3 linked regions of the Homo sapiens genome follow. The protein of the gene in region 3 interacts with the protein of the main gene of each other region in a biochemical or structural test. Each region holds a gene or a part of one and is shown on either strand. Other genes may lie near its edges.

What was found. Proteins that work in one complex are often made in the same cells at the same time.
Region 1: of the proteins of UBE4A (region 3) and NFE2L1, one has a biochemical effect on the other in vitro, tested with the Homo sapiens proteins (one study listed by BioGRID).
Region 2: the proteins of UBE4A (region 3) and RSAD2 form a complex in vitro, tested with the Homo sapiens proteins (one study listed by BioGRID).

Annotation. Positions count from the first base shown.
Region 1 is NC_000017.11:48,044,424-48,051,358, reverse strand, and holds the start of NFE2L1 (endoplasmic reticulum membrane sensor NFE2L1), read right to left. Parts: upstream 3,001-6,935; 5' UTR 2,897-3,000; intron 2,579-2,896; exon of another isoform or gene 2,495-2,578; intron 753-2,494; 5' UTR 241-752; coding exon 1-240.
Region 2 is NC_000002.12:6,894,744-6,898,739, reverse strand, and holds the end of RSAD2 (S-adenosylmethionine-dependent nucleotide dehydratase RSAD2), read right to left. Parts: intron 2,963-3,996; coding exon 2,798-2,962; 3' UTR 501-2,797; downstream 1-500.
Region 3 is NC_000011.10:118,362,593-118,369,625, forward strand, and holds part of UBE4A (ubiquitin conjugation factor E4 A), read left to right. Parts: intron 1-2,447; 5' UTR 2,448-2,488; coding exon 2,489-2,609; intron 2,610-6,038; coding exon 6,039-6,212; intron 6,213-6,830; coding exon 6,831-6,943; intron 6,944-7,033.

The DNA of each region.
Region 1 (6,935 bases), on a different chromosome or scaffold from region 3:
GGCAGTGAAGTAATTGTCCAGGTCTATGCTCTTGGGGTGGATACCATAGCCATCCAAGGTATTCCTCAGGTTGTGGAACTGGGTCTGAGTATAGGCAGAACTGGGCCCCAGGATGATCTCCCGGAGTGGGGGAAGCTGTGAGGTCAGGTAAGTATCCACGTCCACCCGTACCCCAATCAAACTCAGCAGAATGGTGAACTGGAGAAGTCCTTCCGTTAAGTATTTCTTCAGAGAAAGCATTGCTGAAGGACCAGAATGTTTATGCTTTTTGGTTTTTAAAATCTTCCAAAAGACAAATCAAGGCCACTGCTCTGCCGCTCCAGCCAGCAGGTTACCCTCCTCAGTGTCAAACCCCGTACCCCACCCTGGCAGAACACAAGGGATGAGCTCCCTGACGGCCCCAGAGGAAAGCACACCCTGTGGAGCCAAGGCCAAGGACACACTCCAGACCACATTCACTTTCCCTTCTCGACACCTCACCTCTGAAAGTACAACTGTTCCTAACCCAGTCCAGGTCCTCAAGGGCCCACGTGACTTACTTTCTCCACAGTCCACATACAGTCACTTCCTCACTCACATTAGTTGTCCTCTCTGTAGATTCCAATGCAGGCTGTTCTCAGGAACAGCTGATGGATTTTTTTTTTCCTTCTCCCTCCTAAGGTTTATTTTCTTTGGCTGGAGCTACAGGCCTTTCGTCTTGGGTCAGAGTGTCCCGCCTCCTCCACACTTACCAGGGGGGTTTCCAGAGAAACCTGAAATGGGAATCACAAAAGCAACAGGATAAGATTCCATACTTTTCACATCATGATCAGGGTAGGAAAACCTTCACAGTAGAAGGTAGAAAACACATTCAAAGGACACTTTCACTTTTTTTTTTTTTGAGACAGAGTCTCACTCTGTCGCCCAGGCTAGAGTGCAGTGGCGTGATCTGTGCTCACTGCAACCTCCACCTTCTGCATTCAAGCGATTCTCCTGCCTCAGCCTCCCAAGTATCTGGGATTACAGGCGCCTGCCACCACGCCCTGCTAATTTTTGTATTTTTAGTAGAGATGGGGTTTCACTATGTTGGCCAGGCTGGTCTCAAGCTCCTGACCTCAGGTGATCTGCCCGCCTCGGCCCCCCAAAGTGCTGGGATCACAGGCGTGAGCCACTGTGCCTGGCCTAAAGGCCACTTTTACAGGAAGAAAGGACTACTTACACTCTCAGAAAAAAAACCCAAAATATAGCAACCGATCATAGAAGAACTATCAAAGAAAGCTACTGATCACGAATGATCTCAGTTACTGAATATTAAATGTGCAATATCCTAAAATGTAGCTTGGTTTGAATAAGCAGACAATAACCAGGTCATCCAAAATATCTTACACCTTTGTTTTATTTACCAGCCCTCCTCCCCCACTACAGGCGCATTACCCAGCTTCTATTTTCACATGAGAAGCCCATTTCCTGTCTTAAAAGTAAAGCTGGATTTTCACCCCTCGGGAGAAAACCACCCATAACAGTTGTCTTTTCTCAGTTCAAAAAGGCAAGATTATTAAACAGTGAGAGTGTGGAAGGACAAAAGGACAATGTTCAGGCCACCACTTCACCCAGAAGAAGAATGCCTTTTGTTTTCTGAACTTTGAAATCTGATTTCCCTTTCCTATCCTCACAACTTACAAAAGAAAAAAAAGGAAAAGGGCCGACGCCTGTAATCCCAGCACTTCGGGAGGCCGAGGAGGGCGGATCACCCGAGGTCGGGAGTTTGAGACCAGCCTGAACAACATGGAGAAACCCCATCTCAACTAAAAATACAAAAATTAGCCGGGCGTGGTGGCGCATGCCTGTAATCCCAGCTACTCGGGAGGCTGAGACAGGAGAATCGCTTGAACCCAGGAAACGGAGGTTGTGGTGGGCCGATATCGCGCCACTGCACTCCAGCCTGGGCAACAAGAGCAAAACTCCGTCTCAAAAAAAGAAAAAAAAGAAAGAAAAGAAAAGGAAAGAAAAAAAGGAGAGGGATGGTGGGGGCCCTACTACGCAGGACTATTCCGTCCAGAATTTGCATAGGCAGGTTTTATTTTCATTCATATGACCTTCTGAGCCAAAGCAGAAGGATATGGCCACGTTCTCTAGCCAGACTGCCCAGTGCAGAGGAAGTAAATCTGTTTCTGGTCTCCACTTTTGAGCTTCCATTAATGTCACAAACCAAGACATACCGCCTCTCCTCTCCTGCGTTGTGACCCATCTACCAACTTCATTCTACAGGGGGAGAGCGAGCTATACGTACACACACGAACGTGCGCACACACACACACTCACACTCCCTCTCTCTGGTCAGAGTAAACACAATTGCGACCCAGAATTCCTGCTTACGCTACCCTCCCGTTCTCACGCAATTTATTACTAAAACCTCCCAGGAGCCAATTAAGTTCGAGGAACCGGACAAAGTCCCTTAAAAATCAAGTAGGTGCAGGGCCCATAGCCTGAGGCTGGTCCCACCCTGCCCGGATACCCGAGTCCGGCTGAGACCAAGTCGCCATGCCCACTCTCGGCGCCGGAGCTTCTAGCCTCCAGGGGCGGCCAGCGAACAAGTGCTACTTCCCTGGCCTTGACCCACCCTTACAGCAAACCCCACCCCGCCCTCCGTCCCGATGGCCCCACCCCACTCCCAAGTCCAGGCCTCACACCACGCCTTCTCGTGCCCTCAACCCTGCCCAGTCCATCCCACCCCGGAGCCAGCTTTCCTCTCGGCCCCGCGCGGGGCCCCTCCCTGTCAGGCCCAGGGCCGGGCTCTGGCGGGAACCCCGCTCGGCCCCCGCCTCCTGCACCTCAGCACCATCCCGTCGCCCCATAAGCCTCGGCCCCGCGGCGCTGCAACCCTCCCTTCTGGGAAAGGAATGTGCCCGATACCCACTGCTTAGCTCGGCGTCCGCCGCTGCCTCCACAGCAGGCCCTAAGCCCGAGTCCCGGCCTCGCCGCCGCCACCGCCGGCCGGCCTAGAGCTCGGAGCCTCCGCTTACCTCCCCGCCCCCTCCTGCTACCGCACTCGGAAACCCGCCCGCCGCAAACACCCTAGGAACAGTTTCTCCAATCAACGAGCCGAGGCCGGGGCCGTCGACGGATGTCCCTCTGATTGGCAGCAGAGAGGGCCCAATGGCTGAGTGTACCTCCTCATCCCCGGACCTGATTTCCCAAGACTGACATAATTCCCGGCCCAATGAGTACCTAGGCCCGCCCCGCGGTATGGACCCACCAATGAGGAGGGCGAAGGCCCTAGTGTCTGGCATTCTGGGCCCCTCGGCCGCGCCTTCGCGGCGGGCGATGTTAGTGGGCTTGGGCGTTGGGTGAAGTATCCAGGTTGGGCGCTTCCAGCGCTTTCTGTGGCGGGGGAATGAAGGCCTAGGTCAGGGAATAGGAAGGTGTATCGCCGCCAGAGTGCGGAACACCCTCGCCTTGAGGGTTCCCACAGTGACTTGCAAAAGTCTAGTGAGACCCGAGAATGCTGAGGCGGGACACGAAGCATGTGGTTCTTGTGGTTGCGACGCTCGTGCCGCCATCTTGGGTGCTGGCGGCGGAAACCGGTACCCCAACTTCCCCTCGGTGCGAACCTGGAGAAGCCACCCCAGCTGTGAGGGACGGTTGCGCCTCATGGCCCAGGCAAGGGTACCTTCGCTGGAGCAGTACCGCGGACGGATATCATGAGGGTGGTGGGACGTTGGCGGAACGTTGGCGGAACGTTGGCGGTGTGAGAGGTGTGGGGTAATGGCGATTTTTGTCATGGTAGAAACAGCCCAAAGGACCCCCCTCGTTTGGCCTCCCACGCAGCTTAGTCTTGCTTTTTTAGGGATGTTTCTCATTTTTTAATTTCTCCAGTCCCATCTGGTTATATTGCCAAAACATGTTTGTGACTCTCAAACGTTAGTTTACTCCCAGCATCACTTGGGGAGCTTGCTAAGCTACGAATTCCGAGGTCCCACTGGAGAGTCTGATTTAATGACCCTGGAGTGGCGGCCGGATAACCTGCCTGCTGGGGTGATTTTAACGCAGCTGATGCGAAGACCCCATTTAGGGAATCATTGGGTTGGCGTTTGCAATGCGTTCCTCCCAGCTATAGGACAAAGAGGTGTCAACTCAACTGTGTCTTCTTAGAAGAGCCCATTATTTATAGGTGAGTCATTAGTCCCTGTACAACTAAGGACAAGGCCAACTGATAACTCAGTAAATAATCGAGTCCATTTTGTGCTTGCGAGTTAGGGGCTTAATTTGGGGTGGTTTGCAGATTAAGTACTTTCACTGCATATAATAAACGTACACCAGCAAACCACTCATGGAATTCTTAAAAAAACTTCTGAGCTAGTTTACCAGTTTCAAAGACTAATTCAGAGAGCATGTTTTACCTATTCTAGGCTGGACTGGAACTCCTGGACTCAAGCGATCTTTCCATTTATCAGGGACTACTGACGCGTGTCTCCCAATAAATACCTGAGTATAAACAACATGAGGACTAGAATTTTGTGCGTTAACTGTTATAACTTAGTAGACACTCAAATACTGAGTACTTGAAGGGGGACTCAAGCAGGCAGGCCTCTGATTTTCCTGTTAAAAGCAGAAATTAACCACACCTTGGAGGATGTACAGTTTTGAAGGATATGGCATGTTAACAATAAAATAGGAGACCATTCAGTCCCCGAAGTAGTGAGACAATGAAGATAAAGACTGGTATTGTATAAGAAAGGAGGAATATTTAGGTGTGGCCATCAACTCTAAAAATAAATAAGGTTGAGAAGGAAGTATTTTAAACATAGAACTGGGCCCGGCGCAGTGGCTCACAGTAGCACCTTGGGAGGCCGAGGCGGGAGGATTGCTTGACCAGCCTGGGCAGCATAGTGAGACCCCCGTCGCTACAAAAAAACAAGCTGGGCTTGGTGCCACACATCTATAGTCCCAACTACTCAGGAGGCTGAGGTGGGAGGATTTCTTGAGCTGGGAGATTGAGGCTGCAGTGAGCTATGATGGTGCCAGTCTGGGCAACAGTGAGATGCTTCCTCAACAAAACAAAACATAAAATTGAGAGATATAAAGGCTCAACTACAGTGTTTAACTACAAGACAATTTTGAGAAGGTGAAAAGAGCATACTAAAGTTGGTCTTTTTTTGACAGAAAAATACAGAACAATTTTCAGTCCTAACAGTTCAAACTAAAACTGGACAATCGTTTATCTGTGGAGTTTCCTGCTTAGCCATTTCACAAAGGTGGGCAGAAAAAGGGAAAGAGTTGCAAGGGCCGAAGAGAGTAAAGGTGTAGAGACAAACTCAGTCGCAACAGCAGGCCTAGGCCTGGCAGGGTGTGGGCGCCCAGGATATTTGATGCTCCATGGAAGGGAGTGGAGACAGAAAGACTGTCTTCCATTCTGTCTAGAGTTCCAGATCAAGTCTGAGCAGGTGCAAGCTTTCCCAGAACCTGCTGATTAACCTTGTAAAACCCAGGGTGTGTCCTTCTTCACCCAGGAAGCCACCCCCTCCTTTCCCCCAACACTCTCCCCCTCCCTTTGCCTGGGACAGCTGTTAATAGGACAGTTACCCAAGAAGCAAAAGAAGGATCCCATGCTGATGTGTCATCAGTCCCGGTATATCCATTAAATCAGACTGAGAAGACCACTGGAAAAAGTGAGCGCATGCATGTGGCTCCCTAAGGGAAAGGCTGGCAGCCATTGTAAAACTAGGCCTTGCCCCTGCGACTCCAGGCTGGGCAGGAGAGAGAAGAAGGCAGTGGAAGCCGAGAAGAGGGTTAGGTCTAAAGCACACGGATTTGGGGCCAGCTAACTATAAAACATACACGGAAATCCCCACCCCCACCCCAGGAATAGCAGTGTAGTGTCTACCGACCCAGCTTCCCTGGTAGGAAAAGCTGCTGCTGCCGCCAACAGCCACATCCATCCTGCAGTCATCCCTGGAGGATGACACATGCCAGGAATCCTCAGAGAAGGGGCTGTGGGAGGGCAGGCTGGCTGGGGCTCTGATTTCTTCTGGAACAGTGAAATTGCTTTTTCCCTAAAAGGGAAACCCAGGCTTTCTGCCATTCTGGTTGTCCATTATCTTTCCTCTAAAAATGTCTCTAAGGCCAGGCACAGTGGCTCACACCTGTAACCCCAGCACTTCGAGAGGCCCAGGTGGGCAGATCACTTGAGCCAGGAGTTTGAGACCAGCCTGGCCAACATAGTGAAAACCCATCTCTACAAAAAAAATACAAAAATTAGCCAGGCGTGGTGGTTCATGCCTGTAGTCCTAGCTAGTGGGGAGGCTGAGGTGGAAAGATCACCCGATCCTGGGGAGGTTGAGGGTGCAGTAAGCTGTGATTGCGCCATTGCACTCCAGTCTGGGCAACAGAGTAAGACCCTGTCTCAAAAAAAATAATAAAAAGAAAAACATGTCTTTAAGTTTTGCTAATCCATATAAGTATTTCTTACTCTGTAACCTCATCTAATCCAGGGGAATAGATTAGATAGATGATTGCCTGAGATTTCCTTACAGTCCTGAGAGATGGTAGGAATACATCATGTCAATACTAAATGTTAGCATGTTTTGCAAAGAAATCAATTAGTTTTCTGGCAAATCCGGACATATGGCCCTCTCTCTTATATGGTAAACATCATCAGCAAGCTTGTTACCATTAAACCACCAAAAAGTAAAGCTCTCCTGCAAGCCAGCCTCTTTCCTATGCACCACTACCACACTCTTAGAAGATTGCTTCTCAATCCTGGCTGCATATTAGAATCACCCAGGTGGGTAGCTCGTAAGAAATACCAATGCCCAGGTCCCACCCCACACCAATTAAAACAGCTGCCCAGAGCAGAATTGGACATCAGTATTTTGTAAAAGCTCTTCAGGTGATTCTTATGCACAGCCAGAGTAGAGAATCACTAGGTTGGAGCAAGAATCCACATTGGGGTAAAA
Region 2 (3,996 bases), on a different chromosome or scaffold from region 3:
TTCATTGTGTAGAGTGTATATATTCATAATTGATAAATTCAAATGTGCATAAATTTAAAATTTTTATGTAACTAGACTTATTTTCTATCTCCAGGCTCCAGTTCTAGTTAACGTAAGAAACAATATTGTCACTTCTAGACAAACATGGTCAAATAAAATTTTGGATTAAAAAAAGAAAGAATTAAATGCAACATAAAATATCTTCCCTTAACACATAAGATACCTCCGTGAAATTGTTCCTTGCTTTCCCAATTAAATGTGTTTTACAAAACTAACACTCACATTTAAAACTGAAAACATAAAGCAAAACACTATATAGGCTGAATTTGAATTTACTCTAATGTTAGAAGTCCTTATTTCTCCCCTTTAAGAGAAATTAACATTTGAATATTTTAAACATTAAGGCCTTGCAAATCCTGACAGTGCATTAGGTGGTGGTGGTGGGGGTGGGGGTGGTGTGGGCGTGGCCTGTGAATAATGGTGGATAAAACAGCTGAAAATGTATTTAACATAGCTTATAGTTTTATTTCACTTTACATTACATTCCTCTTTGGGGAAAGAAAAATACAGTTTCCCTCAGCTAGAAAAAAATTCATTCCAACTCAGAAGATTCAAACTTCAAATTCAGATTTGGTTTCAAATAACACTGATTGAATACCTGCTGTATATCAAACAGTGTCCTTGGGCTTTCACATATGTGACCTTTCTTAGTTGAACTCTCTTGCTTTTTTTTTTTTTTTTTTTTGAGACGGAGTCTTGCTCTGTCATCCAGGCTGGAGTGCAGTGGCGCTATCTTGGCTCTGTAACCTCTGCCTTCAGGGTTCAAGCAATCCTCCTGCCTCAGCCTCTTGAGTAGCTGGAATTACAAGTGTACGCCACCATGCCTGGCTAATTTTTGTATTTTTAGTGGAGACGGGGTTTCACCATGTTGGCCAGGCTGTTCTCGAACTCCTGACCTCGTGATCCACCCACATTGTCCTCCCAAGTGCTGGGATTACAGGCGTGAGCCACTGTGCCATGAGGATTAGTAAAGTGCACTCATGTTAAGTAAAAAATTTGTTTTATGTTTATGCTGATTATATGAAGGTCATCATAGCTTAGACACAATCAAAACCCATGGGGAACATCTTTAGAATTCATTTTTCTCTTTTCTTACAAAAAAAGTAAATAGGTAAAATGGAAAATAGAAGACAACCTATCCTATCCTGGATGAGACACACACATATTTAAATTGAATTATAGACTTAAAATTTAAGTAGGAATATTTTTTTTCCTGAGAAACAAAGTCACAAAAACCAAAACTTTCAGAATCACCAAGTCTTGAAAATAGATTATGAAGCAGACTTTTTGGATGGTGCTTAATGACATCAGGCGACATTTAAATGCCACCTAGTGAGGAACACTGAAATTGCAGCTAAATTAAAATGACCTTTTATTTGCCTGGACAACAAAAATTTTCCATGATTTTGCTTTTTTGAAACAATGATAAGAAATTTTTTTTTAGGCAATAAGATACTAAGTTGTATCAACAAACTGCATGGGATATTTCCACAAGGAGAGGATTTTGTTCCCTGATCTAGTTTACGTGACATTTTCCCTTATGCTTGCTTTCTCTGAGCTGACTCTTCTTAAACTGACCTAGATGGTACCCTATTTCAACTGACTCAGAGTTCATTCAAAAATATGATATGGTGACTTGGCTTCACTGACATGAAATCCAGGCACTCTCTCTACTCTTGCTCACATTCTTCCTTGCCCAAGGTTCCAGCGTGATTTTAGGATATCTTATGCCAACCCAGTGTGCCGTCACTTCTCAGAGATGTAGGGCCAACCAGCTACTCAACTACACTCCTATTCTTTTGCTTGACAGCCTCATGTGGCCAGATGATAGGCGAACAAAGCAATGCAAGCACTGCCTCCATGTCAACTCCATCATCAAATGGAAAGCGTATCTTTGTTTTGCTCAGGATCTTTGAAGAGAAAGGGACACAACAGGTACCACACACATAGGTAGCCAGCATTCATGGAACAGCCACCGTGGGCTGGGCTGCACCACACCGTCTTTCCATGTGTTATCTCTTTCTAGAGACTTCTTGAAAATTGGTAGGATTATCATATCATATGTTCTTGGAAACATCTGTTGACTATTTCTGTACATCACAGTAAAAAGTACAAGACTGCAATGGCATAAAGGCAAAAAAAAAAAAGCATTATAACCAGCAGAAATAATTGAGGCAGATACTTTGTAATGTCTCAGATGTGAAAACTGGTTATCTGGATATTTGGCAAAAAATACTGACTCTGTCAAATGAACAAACCTGGAACAAGAAATAGTTTCAAAATGGAAATATAGAAATCGCAGTAAACATTGTTTTAAAAAATCAAATCCAAATTAAATTTTGCCCCCACAGATATCACTAGAGCTTATTTCTTACAAACGCATCATTGAGCTAAATGTCAGGTCCTGTGTATAGGGGCCTTATCTAAGCATTTTTGGGGTCATTATTCCTGTGTGTATTCCTTCTTTTTAGCTAAAACAAACTCAAAAACAGAAGTGCTGTTTCAATAACAACAAGGTTATAAGCCAATGAAGTAAAGTTAATGGTTTTCCATTGTCTCAGGATTTGCTATCCAAGTTATTCGTGTGTTCAGTGACCACAGGTAATCAGATGCCACGTGCAGCAGAAAATCAGGTTTTCAGCCACTGGGAAATACCAACGGGATAGTATTGCAGACAATGGCAGTTACTCTAGGAGTTTTCCCACTGGTGTGTTGAAGTCTCGTTCCACTTTCCGCTCTACCAATCCAGCTTCAGATCAGCCTTACTCCATATGTATTTTCCTCCTCGCTTCAGAAACATCTTTTCATCAAATCCACTGAATTTTATAGCTTCTTCTACACCAACATCCAGGATGGACTTGGAAGGGTCCTTCCGTCCCTTTCTACAGTTCAGAAAGCGCATCTAGAAAATTCATAACAGAAACTGGTATATTTCCATGTGATGAATCCTGTAAAACTCAATCTAGACTATTAATCCCAAATAGCTTTTGATATTCCAGTCATGTCGACAGGTATCTTTTGAAATCTGTGGCTGATATTGAACCCCTTGGACCCCATCTCTCTACTCAACCAGCTCATGGTCTGGTGGAAGAGGCTGGGCTAAGTACAGTAGACACCTAAGCGCACAATAAACAGAATGATATGCGCCCCGCATGGGCAGATGTAGTTCCACTGGGGGAAGGGGTAATCAGGAGAGGCTTGCCCCAAATGCTAACATCTGAATTATGTGTTGAGATTTTAAATTGGAGGGAATGGTATCATAAAAGCACAGAAGTGTGATATAGCATGATGTACTGGGGAAATGGAGGTAGACGGTGTTTCTGGAATAGTAATGATGTGCATGCATCCGTGCATGCATGCATATATGTAAATATTAATAAAGGCTTGTTTTGAGAAACGGAGAGAGGATGAAAAGAAAGGTGCTGCTGAGGCAGGCAGGTGCCAGATCAAGAGGAGTCTTCCATGGCAGGTGCCAGATCAAGAAGAGTCTTCCATGACCTGCGAAGGCTCTTTGTTTTAATCTTATTCCATCCATTTTCATTTGTTTTAGTCTGTCCTATTCTACTCTGTAGGCAGAAACGATTTCTTCACACTCCTTACGACCTACACTGAGTGTTTCATAGGAGCTCAAGTAATACTTATTGAAGCAAAATGTTATTCAATTGGTAAAAGCAAATTTTGGTTCAACGATGTGTTTTCCAAATATGTGGAGACCAGTGAGTTTGTTGAGGGATGCTGGTCAAAATCACTAGACAATCATAATAATTTCCACTCCAAAAATAAATTGTTTGAATTTTCCTCTCTACCTTGGACCCAGAAACTAAATGTTTTCCTTATCACCTTTTCCCTTATGCTCTATTAAGAAAGCTTATATTGTTAAGAAATGAAATGGGTATAAACAATGATTGGTTAACTTGAAAATAACAAAATACCAGC
Region 3 (7,033 bases):
TGGTTTTTATAACTGAAAAGTCCAGACTTATCTTTCCATCTCTCAATTCTGTTTTCTAGTGTATGTTGGCTTGGTTTTAGGCTAGGCCTTTTCTAAATGGTGTAAAGATGGCAACTCTATCTTACTGGCTTATCAACTCAATCAGGAGAAAACTCACTTTTCCGTAGATTCAGCTGAAGTCCTGAAGCTGGTATTCATTGACTCTGTTAGGCCTCCATAGTGTCTTGTGCCCACTCCTGGATCAGTTGCTTTGGCTGGAAAATGCTGTATTCTTTTTAGCCTGGCCAGACTTGTATGTTCATTCCTGGGGCTAGTGGGTGAGGTCAACCCCTTCTGAACTGGTCAGCCTCTTCTGGATTGAGTGGAGTGGATACCCAAAGGAAAAAAATGAATGTGATGTTTTAGAGAGAGAAATAACAAGAGCTCAATATACTTTTTGCATTCCTCTGGAATTTGTGGTATTTTAGGATGGAAGTAGAATGGTGGTCAGCTAACAATAAGACAATTCTTGGTGTTTTTACATTAACTACAGGTAATAATTAAACTTGTGCGGTAATTACATGGGGAAAATCCCTCTCATTAATTTCAATACTAAATATGGTATCTTTCCCTTTTTTTGCATTATTAAGCTTACTGAAATATACATAGCAAAAAATAAAATACAGAAGGCCAGGCGCAGTGACTCATGCCTATAATTCCAGCACTTTGGGAGGCCGCGGTGGGAGGATCACTTGAGGTCAGGAGTTCGAGACCAGCCTGGCCAACATGGTGATACCCCGTCTCTACTAAAAATCCAAATAACAGTTCAATTCCTTGAAGCAGTAAAGCTTTGAGCTGCACTGAGAGGAGACTAGACTGCCTAAGTCATTACAGCTAATTAGCCGTTAGCTCTTGTGTGGAAAAAATGGCAGAGGAGCATGAAGCAAGTGCTGAAGATGCCTCAGAATTGTCAAGAAATGTTATAAATAATCTCTTTCTCTGGTAAATAAGGGTAACTTTTTCGACCACATTAGCTTTTTTTTTTTTTTTTTTTTTTTGAGACGAAGTCTCGCTCTGTCACCCAGGTTGAAGTGCAGTGGCACAATCTCAGCTCTCTGCAACCTCTGCCTCCCGAGTCCAAGCAATTCTCCTGCCTCAGCCTCCTGCCTCCCAAGTAGCTGGGATTACAGGCACCTGCCGCCATGCCTGGCTAATTTTCGTGTTTTAGTAGAGATGGGGTTTCACCATGTTGGCCAGGCTGGTCTTGAACTCCTGACCTCAGGTGATCCACCTGCCTCAGCCTCCCAGGGTGCTGGGATTGCAGGCATGAGCCACTGCACCTGGCCCACATTAGCTTTTGTTGATATGATCCTGTGAGGAGTCTTGCCTCAATAAACCAAAGGTAGACCAAATGTTCTTTTTTTCTTCCTTTATACCCCTACTCCCGCTATTTCTAAGGTCTCTGTCCTTATAGCAGTTCAAGATCCTTATGAACAAAACATTCATACCCTTTGTCTCTTCCCACCCTTTTCAGTGTTGTATTTAATATTTCTATGTCATGGCCTTAAAATTTCAGAAAGGGGAGAAAGCCTTTCAGGGAGCCCTGTTTATTCTGTTGTGCCACTGAGTTCACTTGGTCTTGAATGAGGAAATGTAATCAGAAGAGTGTGAATGCAGGCTCAGCCAGCTCTACTAAACACCTTTGAGGTATCTATATTTCATATTACACAGTAGACCTGACCGTTGGAATTCGTGTTTCTTCAGTATTATTTTAAGAAATCAGGTAAACAGTGAAGGTTAGATATAGCATGAAGCAAAGACCATTTAATTTTTAGTGGAAGAAATATCAGTATTTTTAAGCCTAGAAATAAATAGATTGCTTAATCTATGTTAAAAACCCACAACATACAGCTGAACTGCTTCCAGTCCTGATTTGCCAGAGTCCAAATCTAAGATATGGGCTTTTACTTAATTTATATGTAGCTGAGAAATATCCATCCCCAGCCCTAAGTCATAGAAGTCCCTTGTCCTCACCCCAGTGAATGAGAACTAGACTGCCAGCTTAATTCTTGGGAAATCCATAATTCTTGTCTTATTATTTTTCAGTGCCACATTGTTATTACAATTAGTAGGTGAGTTCTCTCTTTGACTTCAATAATTCTTTCTACTTAACCTGTTTTCTTAAAGGTATTGCAAATAAAAGTATATCAACAGATTAATGCATTCCAGCTGAACGTTTTAGCCTTTTTAGTTTCAGCTATCCACAAATCAAGCCACCGAGTCCAGCTGGTAGGTTTGTAACCATTTTGCCAAAAATGTCTTGAGTTTGGGGACAGGAATTGGAAAATCTTAACCCAAAGTATTTTAAAATGTATTGTATTTGAGAAATGGGAAAAGAAACAACCACAGGTATATTACAGCTATTGTGTCATCTGCCCTCTTGTGTCTAATACCTGTCCTTTGAACAGCCTCTCCCACTAGGTCTGGATGGAGGATACCTTAAAGTGAAATGACAGACCAGGAGAATAACAACAACATCTCAAGTAACCCCTTTGCTGCTCTTTTTGGCTCCCTGGCTGATGCCAAACAGTTTGCGGCAATCCAAAAAGAGCAGCTGAAGCAACAATCTGGTAAGTGGAGGAGCCAATAGCAGCAAATAAGATGACCTAGAATGGGGTCTTCCCAAATTAAGTATTCTTTGAGTCCTTAATTGCAATTGGAATTTAAGTTTGGAACAAAAGTTGGTTTTTGTTTGTTTGTTGAGAGCAGAAATTGGGGTTTTTTGTTTGTTTGCTTTTATTGTTGGTTTTGTTGTGAGTCCCTCCCCTCCGCTGTCCTCTCCACTGTACAAAAAGAGACCAGGTAACAGGTGGTTCCATAGTAACAGATGCCAGTCGTGATCCCAAAGCTGTCAGGCTGTTTTCTTTAAAAGAAAAAAAAAATCACCTAGTAAAAGCTATTTAAATAAATGTTTTTAACATGGGACACAGAGGTGGTAAGTGTAGGTGTAGAAAGCAAGTCATGTGCAGCTATAGAAAGCAGATGTAAAAGGAAGAACTATAAAAGCTTTTTGACCTGTAGGCAAATGAGACTTGTTCTTAAGCTCAGCACTTCAAAGGCCCTCCCAAGCAAAGTGCTTCTTCTGTTCCGATGAGTGGCATCATTTGTAGCTTAGTCCTGTTAGGACAGACTTTTTTAAAAAATCTGATCCTTAGCCTTACTATGAAAAACATCAGAATAACATCTCAGTAATCAGAAAAAATGGTTTTCTTTCAGGCACCGAATTTAAGATCAAGTCCAGCTTCCTCCTATAAGGAGACATATACACTAGAAGAATTAGGATTTTTCTCAAATATGTTAGTCTTCTGAAGATATTCACAATCTTTCAAACCAGAAATTGCTCCCCTTCTCCTCTCTCCGAAAAGAATAATAGTGTTTTTCTTTTGAGAGAAGGAGAAGTGTTTGCATTTTCCCTTTATTTTGTTTATTTAAAAAAAAAAAAAACACTCAGGTGCATAGCTGACTTTTGGCCTTTCAGTTAGAAAGGGCTGAAGAAAAAAGAGGTAAAGGCAAGACAGATAAGTGATTGATGCAAGGGAAAAACAAAATCAATGTTGATTTTTTTTAACATGGTATTTTCAGTCTCTGAAATCTCTCCCAGATTTCTATGATACGGGGCCAGAATGGGAAACTCTGGTTTAGAAGATTGTAGGGGAAAAAGCAGAGTGAAAAATAGGAAAAATAAGGAATGAGAAAGTATGATTTATGAGTATGTGGTTGAGGGAAATTTTGCTAAACAGATTCTTAGCTTCTGTCACCATTGGAGGTCAGAGAAAAACTCAACAGTATAGCAGCTGAGCAACAGAACGCTTGTCCTTCTGGCTATAAACAGACATAAATCTGGCTAGAGTTGGGAGCATTGCAGGCACATGCCCTTCTGTTACTATTTTGGCACCTCATCATCCTAGTTTGTTTACACTGAGTTTATCATGCCACCAGGTCCAACCTGTTTCCACTAGCAATTAGTACTTTGCCAAAACCTTTGGCTTCCTATGTTGAGCTTATACTCACCACACTGAAACAACTCTTACTTTGAGAGTTTTACCTGGACTTTCAGACTAGCCATTCTGTCAATAGAGAAAAGTACATATAGACTCATATGTGGCATATAGTGAATAACACTACTTTTATGTAGTCATTCAACATGAATGATGGGGCTGGGCGCAGTGGCTCGCGCCTGTAATCCCAGCTCCTTGGGAGGCCTAGGTGGGCAGATCACCGGAGGTCAGGAGTTCGAGACCAGCCTGGCCAACATGACAAAACCCCGTCTCTACTAAAAACACAAAAATTAGTCGGGCATGATGACAGGCGCCTATAATCCCAGCACTCTGGGAGGCCAAGGTGGGCGGATCACCTGAGGTCAGGAGTTTGAGACCAGCCTGGCCAACATGGTGAAACCCCATCTCTACTAAAAATACAAAAATTAGCCGGGCGTGGTGGTGGGCGCCTGTAGTCCCAGCTACTTGGCTGAGGCAGGAGAATCACTTGAACCTGGGAGGTAGAGGTTGCGGTGAGCCGAGATCACACCACTGCACTCCAGCCTGGGCGACAGAGTGAGAGTCCATCTCAAAAAAAAAAATCAAAGGATGGGAGCAGATTTTGAGGACAGAAGTTTAAAAAAAAAAAAATCGAAGGAATTTCATCAATAAGAAAAAAATAACAAGAAAGAATAAAAAGGTACAAAAGATGTGACATGCAACTTATAACCAAATGATTAAAAAATTTATTCTCATCAATCATTAGAGAAGTGCCAATTAAAACAACCATTAAATTGTTTTTTTACCTATGAAATTTGTGAAGATTCAAACAGGCACTCTCTCATATACTGTTGGGTTTGCATGTAAATCAGACAGTCTCTTTGAGGGTAACTTGGTAGTAAATGTTAACTTTTTTTTTTTTTTTTTTTTGAGACGAAGTCTTGCTCTGTCACCGAGGCTGGAGTGCAGTGCAACCTCTGCCTCCCGGGTTTAAGCAATTCTCCTGCCTCAGCCTCCCGAGTAGCTGGGACTACAGGTGTGTGCCACCACGCCTGGCTAATTTTTTGTATTAGTAGGGATGGGGTTTCACCATGTTAGCCAGGATGGTCTCAATCTCCTGACCTCGTGATCCGCCTGCCTCAGCCTCCCAAAGTGCTGGGATTACAGGTGTGAGCCACCGTGCCAGGCAGTAAATGTTAACTTTTTAAATGTTCAAGCTCTTTGATCCAGCAGTTCTGCTACTGTGAATTTATCCTATAGAAATACTCATACAAGTAAACAAAAAGAGTTAAGTTGTATTGTATTCAGTGCAGTATTTAAAATCATGAAATATTAGAAACAACCCTATTGTTCATCAGTTGAAAAGTAGCTACATAAACCACAGGGCATGCAAAAGATGTGATACAATACAGCTATTAAAAATAGTGAGGTAGGCCTCTAAATGGCCTAACAGGGAAAGGTGTTGGTGCTGATTAAAAGGCAAGCTGAAAAGAGCTATGTATAGTATCCCATTTTTTAAAAAAATTAAAAAGATAGTAATGAATATTAGCACCAGAAAAGAAAAAAATTCTTGAACACTGTTAAGTGTCTTTAGGGAATTGGTTCAGGAGACTTTCTATACTATATTTTTCTGTACAGTTAAGAACTATTAAAACAAATGTTATCTCTTAAAATCAGGGAGAAAAGCCATACATTTAAAATAATTAAAGGCATTTTGATCTATTAGGTAATTCTTTGTTCACTAGGATTCTGTAGAGAAGATAACTTTGCTATTTCTGGCAGTGTGGAGTATAATTATGGATAGAAATAAAACTTTTGCTTTGTAAAATGTGGTAGGATTTATAGCCAGGAATTTCAAAACCCTATATTTAACTTCCCTGACTTGAGATGTTCACTAATTAGATGATTAGCTTGTTTTACATCTGAAATTATCATCTTCTTGGTTACATTTATTATTTTTGGTAGCATGCTTGGTTCTCTCTTAAAGGGGTGTAACATTTAACAGTATACATTTTCTGGCAGATGAACTCCCAGCTAGCCCAGATGACTCGGATAATAGCGTGTCAGAGAGCCTGGATGAATTCGATTACTCTGTGGCTGAGATTAGCCGCTCATTCCGATCACAGCAGGAAATATGTGAGCAACTCAACATCAATCACATGATCCAAAGGATCTTCCTTATTACTCTGGACAACAGTGAGTTACAAACTTATAGCATTATTCTACCCTTCCTATTTGAGCTTGGGCTAGGGGCTTGCTCTTTGAAACTGGTTACAGCTAATGGTTAGATACAAACCTACTCACTGCACTCCCTGGAACTCAGGGTTTATATTTCAGTGAACCTTTTGGTATGACCTAAAAACAGTATTTAGATGCAGATCTAACTTTTGTTCCCATTTCAATACTGACTGCACTATATAGCTACTTGCCTTTACTACCTTAAAAAGGAAATGGGAAGGGTAGCCAAACCCATTTTCTTCTCAGAGGTAACCTAAATATTCAGATGGAAGCCTTCAGAGGCATCAGAGAGTGTTTGCCCTCTGTGCCCTGTCTGTGTTTAAACCCCAAGGTTGGTACTAATGTCTGGGATTTACTCTTTAAATGTCATGATGCTAGGTTTATAACAAATCCCATTCTCTGTGACTAGAGGGGGAAAAAAAAAGATTTGAATCTTTAGATGTTGCTTTGTGTATCAGGATCATTCTGGTATTACTTGAGTCAGATTTGCAGTTCAAGAGTGATGCTGTCAAGATCAGTTGTCTGTATAAAACAGAAGCATTATCCTTAACCTATCATATTAAAACCATTTCCCAGGTGATCCCAGCTTGAAAAGCGGGAATGGCATCCCTAGCCGTTGTGTGTATTTGGAAGAAATGGCAGTAGAGCTAGAAGATCAAGACTGGCTTGATATGAGCAATGTTGAGCAGGTAATATTCTTACGTTCCTAATGTGTGCCCTTAGCAAAAATTAGCTATGCGGCTGAATTCTGCTCACTGTTCTCCAACTTATGCTTGTGT